2 linked regions of the Homo sapiens genome follow. The protein of the gene in region 1 purifies or fractionates together with the protein of each later gene. This does not show direct contact. Each region holds a gene or a part of one and is shown on either strand. Other genes may lie near its edges. The genes, in order: NBAS and ACVR1.

Region 1 (3,825 bases):
TTTCTAGAGTTGTATCTGAAATCTACTTATACGGCCAGTTATTTTTAATATGGTGAACCCCCGTCTCTACTAAAAATACAAAAATTAGCCAGGTGTGGTGTTGTGTGCCTGTAGTCCCAAGCTACTTGGGAGGCTGAGGCGGGAGAATCACTTGAACCAGGGAGGCAGAAGCTGCAGTGAGCCGAGATCGCACCATTGCAATCCAGCCTGGGCAAAAAAAAGCAAAACTCCATCTCAAAACAAAACAAAAAAAATCATAAGCTCCCTATGAGCAAAAGCCACATTTATGCCTGTCCTGTACCCCTTCACAGTCCCTAGCATAGTGCTCTTGCTCTTAACTGTCTATTTAACTAAACGAAATATTCCCCTCCCCAAAAAAGTACTTGCTTTGTCTCTCTTAACATCCCTCAACTCCCTCAGAGACAAAAACTGTCCTTTACTGTATCCCAGAAAAAGATATACATGAACTCATGAGCTCATTGTCTTAGATCACAAAACAAGAAAGAAAAATAATACAGAATTAGTGTTTTGATTTTCTAAAGAAAATACAAGCAACTTTATCTTCTTCCGTTTCATTACCTCTCATGCTCTTTCACCTCTGATATCTTGCTTGTATTAATGTTAGGTTTATCATCCTGTTTGGCTGATGCATCATCTTCTTCCATACAACTTTTTCATGTTATATTTTTACTTTTAATTACTAACGTATAAAACTTTTAGGGAAATAATCATCATGAAATTTTCCCAGTGTTTCCTATAATCTTCCACAATGCAAAGGTATTTTCCTTTCTATATGTTAAGATCAGAAGTCTCAACCTTTTTAAAAGTATGCCATGAGTCTAACTATAATTCTTTCTTACAAAGATGCCAAAGGTTAAAACATATAGGCTTGCTATGAAATCAATATGTCCCCCAAAATCCATATGTTGAAAAACTAATCCCCAGAGTGATGATGTTTGGAAATGAGACCTTTAGAAAGCAATTAGGTCATGAGAGTGGAGGCCCCATGATAGGATTGGTGTCCTCATAAGAGGAGGCAGTAGAGAGCCTTCTTTCTCTCTCTCTGCTGTCTGCCATATAAGGACACAGCAAGAAAGAAATCCATCTGCAAACCAGGAGAGTGCCCTCACCAGGAACGAAATTGGCTAACACCTTGATTTTGCACTTCCCAGCCTCTAGAACTAAGAGAAATAAATTTCTGCTGTTGAAACCACATAGTCTGATATTTTTGTTGCAGCGGCTAAAACTAATTGAGACAAGACTATATTAACCTTAACTATGGGAGGCAGGTAACAGGAAGTATCCAGTTTTGAGATTTAAGTTTTAAAAAGGCATATTTCGCAGTTTTCATATATGTTACCTATTTATTGCCTCTCAGCTCCAAATTTCCCCTCAAAGCCAGCTCTGTGGTAGCATATCTCATTTGTGGTTGACACGATTTTAAGCTCTGGGTGCTGGAGGGCCACTGCAAAGGAAGAGGCTCTGCTTTCTAGTCCTGATGTGCTTTGGTTCTTTTCTTCTTGCTCCTATGGCTTGGCCACCAACAAGGCACGTGGGCAACATCAAGTGGCACTTACTTCCCCGCTTCCTCCCTCTGTTGACAACCTCCCACTGAGTTTCAGTGACACTCTCATGGGCAGATTGTTTTCTAGTGAATCACCCAGGCACCTGAGAGGGAAGCTTCCCAGACTGGAAGCTACAGTAAGGCTGCCTATAGGAGTAGACAGTTTTTTCTTGCCAGTCTTGGCCATGATTCCTTAATTATCTACCAGCCTTGAGCCACATGCATGCTGGTAGGGGTTTCCTGCTTCCTAGTCCCTGGGGTCTTCTAAACCCCAACCTCAGCTCACTGGCCCCCCCCAGAAGCAGGCGTCCAGCTTTCCTATCCATCCCATATCTCCCTGACTGCCAACCTTGGCAACCGTGGACCAGCCCTGGCTCAAGGCAACCCAGAGAACTTCTCTTCCATCCTACATGCTGCAACCACTCCTGGTCCAATGGGTCTGAATCCCAGCCTAGGGGAGGGGCCTCCCTTCCAAGTTCATTCCCTTCATGGATATGTCCCTTCAGCCCTAGGGTAGTCCTTAGCGTTCTCTTCACATCCTTTATAGTTCATCTCTGGTTACTAGAAAATAATTCTCCATATTGTAAATTTCCCTGTTTAAATTACTGTGTGATTTCTGGCATCTGACTAGCTCTTGACTCATGCAGGTAAAGAGAAGTGATTGTGGTACAGGAAAGAAAACGTTAGGCCGAGACCAAGTAGTTAGCTGGTTTATCTGTGAATATTTGTTCACATGTATTCAGCATCAAAGTCCAGTTGCAGGGGCAATAAAATCTAACAAAAAGACCATTTTTCCAGCTGAGAAAATTGTACTTCATTGGCTGTATTATAGAAAAGTCAGCAATGTAAAGTACTCTAAAATGAAGCCCTATAAACAAAAGATATTACATGAATATACATTTTACCACATTACCAAAATATTTAAACATACCAAATAATTCTGAATTGAAGCAACGTTGACCGCTGACTTCCTCCACTGCCTCTGATATACAAGGTCAGTATCCAGGCCGTAGGTATGAGCCAAGGACAAGGCTTCCTCATACTCTTCACTTTCAATCTTCAGATAAAAACACGAGGACAGGAATGTTACATGACTGAATTATCCACAGGGTCCTGATGATGATACAATGAATGATGATAATCCCTTGGACTTATCCAGCATGTCACTAATTCCTGTGCACTGTGGCACCAGAAGCTCACAGATATTTTGAGGAGCAGAAAGATCTCGTGTTTCTTTCAGCACTTCAACAGAAAGATGAGAGATAAAAGGTGCAAAGCTCTCGTTTTAGAGTAAAACAGCGGCAAAACCAAGACAACCATGGAACAACCCGGCTTCTAGTCCAGAGCTCCTACCACGACATTGCAAGAACAGCACAAATCACGTGAACACACAGTGCTGGTCACCTCGGCTTCCCAAGCAAGCCCTGGACTAGAAAGCAAGTCTGAACTTCTTCCTTCACCCTCTGTAGATGGCTGATTTAAACACAGATAAAGGGAGAGCTGAAGGCCACATGAAGGGTAGCAAAGAAATGAGCTAAGCCACCAAGTGGATAATCAGTCTAAGTGAATTCAATTTTTATCCATGGTTTTGATTTTGATTATTTAGGTACAAAGATTAGCATTATTTTAAAAAGCTTTATAGAACTGATATTTTTAACATGTCAATGATCCAACATCCCTCTTGAAATTTTCTCCTTTATTAAAAAATTAACTTTTTCTCAATAAAAGAAAAGCTTGATGACTTCAAACTTGGGTAGTAATATGCTACTCTCTCACCTTCCTCTGATAAAGTTCCTCTGGTGTCGTGGAGCGCAAACTCACAAGGCGGTAGTTTTTAGTAATGGTTCGTGGGCGTTTCCGTGGTGGTGCAAATCGCTCCATTTCAGTCACCAAGTAAAGGCCCTGTTTTATATAACCAAAGTAGCGAGCCTTGGCAGATATTTCATAATCAGAATCAGAATCCTCTTCTCCTTCATCTTCTTCTCCAGCTCTAGTCTCCAAACGAGATCGTTTGGGGGCAAGTTTAATCTCACACTAAATTGAAAAAGGAGATTTGAAGTTAATAGTAAGGAAATAAGAATAACTTTTTAGAATTAATGAAAGAAAATATATTTCTAAATCTACTCTGGTTTGATTCATTAAATCAGCTATGTGATCAAGATTAACAATGGAACTCAAAGGAACCTTACAGCAAGCATTATATACATCAGAAATATGCACATACATTATCAGCTCAAATCTAAACTAAAGCCTGTTTTTTT
Region 2 (3,825 bases), about 140 Mb from region 1:
ATTTAAACCCAAATCGCCCTGGCTCTAAGAGCCATGGAATAAGCCATAAAAGTCCTCTACACCACAACTAAAAATGCCTGCAAAAAACTTTAGGGCCATGCTCTTTCAATGCTTATCCTAAAATCTTTCGTCTCCTACTTGGGAAACATTGTAATTTCTCAATGTAAAAGCAAAGACTTTAAAGGGATTCAAAGGAAATAAATTTTCCTAACATGTCAAATCCCTTATGTTTAAAAACAAACAAAAATAAACTTTGTTATTTACATAACTAAAGCTATTTTTGTCTAAACCTTTATCAGGCTAACAATAATTGCAATAATATAAATATCATATAAACCATGTTTAATCAAGTAGAGGGCCCTGAATTCTCATTAGCACAATTATTTAGCCAATATTCTAGGAATCCAGGAAGAACATGGTTTTATATAAAATGCCACTATAAATGAAAATACTCTTATTTATAATGCAACTAAAGCTACACTGAGTACTACTCTAACACCATAAGAATGAGCTATCCTAACAGGGAAAAGAGTGAATCAGTTCGGGGATTATTTTCCTATTTCTTAACTTGATTCTTTTGCCTTGGTTACAGAATGATTTTAGAGACCACTTTTAAGATAAACTAATTCTATAGAGTATTTATTGTGCACCTACTTTATGTGAAGGTTAGTGAAACCAAAATGCAACAGTACTGGTTACTTCTGAGGTGGGGTGTGGCAGGGACTGACTGAATGAGCCTGAGGTAACTGTCAAGAGTAATGGGAAACTCTGTATCTCGACAGGGATTTGGGTTTTACAACATTTGTCAAAACTCTTAAGATTTGTATATCTCACAGTATATAAATTTTACCTGAAAAAAAGAAAAAGCAAATAATGCATTCTTGTCAATGATATACTAGTGTACATGCTGAAATCATCAGAAGAAAGAATTCCTTTGTCTGCAATTTACTTTCAACTCTATCAAAGGTTGATATGGACTGATGGATGGGGAGATGAATAGATGAATAAATACATAATAATGCTTAAGGATAGTAAAATGTTAATGTGAGAATCTATGTGGTGGGTATAAAGGTGTTCATTGTAAATGTTCAACTTTTCTGCATGTTTGAAATTTTGCATAACATGTTGTGGGGGAGAGATGCAACTCACCTAACCATTGAAACAAAAATAAAACTGGTGAGGAAAAAAATATTTTTAGAAATTTACCCAAATCTGCTATGCAACACTGTCCATTCTTCTTAACCAGAATATTTTTGCTCTTTAAATCTCGATGGGCAATGGCTGGTTTCCCTTGGGTCCCAAATATCTCTATGTGCAAATGTGCAAGACCACTAGCTATGGACAGCACTATTCGAAGGCAGCTAACTGTATCCAGAGTAGTAAGCTGAAGATAGTCGTACAACGATCCCATTTCATGATAATGTGTAATTAACCACAGCTGGGTACTGGAGTGTCTTGATGTCATGTCTGAAGCAATGAAACCTGGAGAGAGCAAGAAAAAAATTAATATACATGAGGATTCCACATTATAACTTAAAGTATTTAGAAATAGCGACCTACACAGTAAATGTCATCTGTAACAAAAAGTAATTAAACTGACCAATTGCCCTAAGAGGAGGTTTACAGAAGCATCAACAGAGAAAAATAATAGCATTTATTCCTTAAAAGGGCACTGCTAATAGGAAAATTTCATATTCATTTCATTATAAGTAATACTTTAAAAGATATTTTACATTCCTTAAGTTTCAGATAGCAATAATATCTTTGTGCTCACCCATAATGATAGTGCCAAGCCCTTCAGCATGTTGATATTTTAGGAACAGACCATTCATCAACCATCCTAAAAGAACATCAAATCTAAAACCTGAGTACTGTATTCTAGTCCTGACTCTGCCTGTGATTTACTTGTCTAATACTGGGCAACTCAGTTAGGCTCCTTAGCCTATATCTGCTCAGATGTAAAATAAAGGGGGCAAGTTTACATTAAATGATTGACTGATTCACGAAATAAAAAAAGAAACCAACCAAATATATGAGTATTTATGATGCTATCTGTCAGTCACACACAGAAAAACCAAGATGATAGTGTTTGCTGGCTAAAGAAGACAGATGTAAAAACGAAAACACTACAATAAAATACGAAAAGTACTATAATATATATCTTCAAAGGGCAACATGAGCCCAGAGCAGGAAATTATAGTAATTCAGACTAGGTGTTACAATAGGCTTCCATTAGGAAGTGGCAACTCAACTGGTCTTGAAGTAAAGTGAGTGACTGACAAATGTGGATGAAGAGGTTGGAGAAGATTTTTCTTTTTCTTTTTCTTTTTTTTTGAGACGAAGTTTCCCTCTTGTTGCCCAGGCTGGAGTGCAATGGCGCGATCTCGGTTCACTGCAACCACCGCCTCCTGGGTTCAAGTGATTCTCCTGCCTCAGCCTCCCGAGTAGCTGGGATTACAGGGGCCCACCATCACGCCGGGCTAATTTTTTATATTTTAAGTAGAGATGAGGTTTCCCCACGTTGGCCACGCTGGTCTCAAACTCCTGACCTTCAGGTGATCCACCTGCCTTGGCCTCCCAAAGTGCTGGGATTACAAGCGTGAGACATCGCGATCAGCCCGGAAGAGATTTTTCTAGACATCTGGAGGGAACTTTTGAGCATGCAGAAGACTGTCTGGAAGTTAGGGGCACTTCCTATCTTATGAAATAAATTGTGACGTGTGCTTGCCTTTTCTGCTACAGAGGTGCCTTTCTAGGATTATTCTCACATATATGAACCACGCTGGTAGACAGTGAAGTTTGGGACTTAAAAAGAGGTGAGAAAAAAAATTTTTTAAGACGGATATGGCTTGAGGAAGAATTAAATGACTTATGAAAATGTAAGAGAAAATACATTAAAATGCTTTATACTTGCATAGTACTTTATATAAAATTTATGTCACTTTCACATATATTTTCTCATGAGATTTTTCCCAACAAGCTGGTAAGAAAGACATCATTATGCTCATTTTACAGATAATAAAGTTGGTGCTGGGAGATGCCAAGGATCACACAGCTATTTAAGTTGCTATCAACTCTGAATTTAGTGCTAGCTGTCCTGATACCTTGCATAGGAAGGCTCTGTGAGCCAAGAAAGGTCCCCTATTTGATCATCATCATCATCGGCAACCACAACAGAGGCAGCTAATAATTATTGAGTACTACATGCCTGGAACTTTATATGCAATCCTCCAAAAACCACATGAAGTAAGTAGATCGCATAATTGATATTAGGTTCCTGTAGGTCTGATTCTAGAACCCAGACTCTTACTGACTATGCCATACTGTCCCCAAACAAACTGATTTCTACTCAGAGAAAAAATAATTTCACATTTTCACCTATGGGACATATGCAAAGCAAACTGAATAATATTTTAGCACCTTCACCCTCTACTTCTTTCTCTCTCTTCCTCTAAGCCTATTCCCATGGCCAGCCCTGAGTCTCCCACTCCTTCCCTGCTCCCCAGTCTGCTTTTCCCCTCGATGCTGCTTCTCTTGGAGCCCTTAGCTGGCCACAATATGCATCAAAATGTGTTCTTGGACATTAGTTATTCTTAATAAAGAAAATGTTTCTGCTTTAACAGTTTGAACCAAATAATACTAATCTTTAATGATTTTCTTAAAAAATACCCCAAACTCTAACAGCACCACTCAAAAGAAATTAAATTACTGTTATATATCTGTGTAGCCTCTACTGATTTCCTCTCCCAAGAAAAAGGAGCTTCTGATTAAATAAATAAATAATAAACGAATACATTTTTATTATCTCACCTTCACTAAGCCCCT

What was found.
Region 2: the proteins of NBAS (region 1) and ACVR1 purify together in Homo sapiens (co-immunoprecipitation; one large-scale study listed by IntAct). This does not show direct contact.

What each region holds. Positions count from the first base shown.
Region 1 is NC_000002.12:15,470,727-15,474,551, forward strand, and holds part of NBAS (NBAS subunit of NRZ tethering complex), read right to left. Parts: intron 3,599-3,825; coding exon 3,341-3,598; intron 2,622-3,340; coding exon 2,496-2,621; intron 1-2,495. UniProt on the Homo sapiens protein: Involved in Golgi-to-endoplasmic reticulum (ER) retrograde transport; the function is proposed to depend on its association in the NRZ complex which is believed to play a role in SNARE assembly at the ER. Required for normal embryonic development.
Region 2 is NC_000002.12:157,764,715-157,768,539, forward strand, and holds part of ACVR1 (activin receptor type-1 precursor), read right to left. Parts: intron 1,483-3,825; coding exon 1,207-1,482; intron 1-1,206. UniProt on the Homo sapiens protein: Bone morphogenetic protein (BMP) type I receptor that is involved in a wide variety of biological processes, including bone, heart, cartilage, nervous, and reproductive system development and regulation.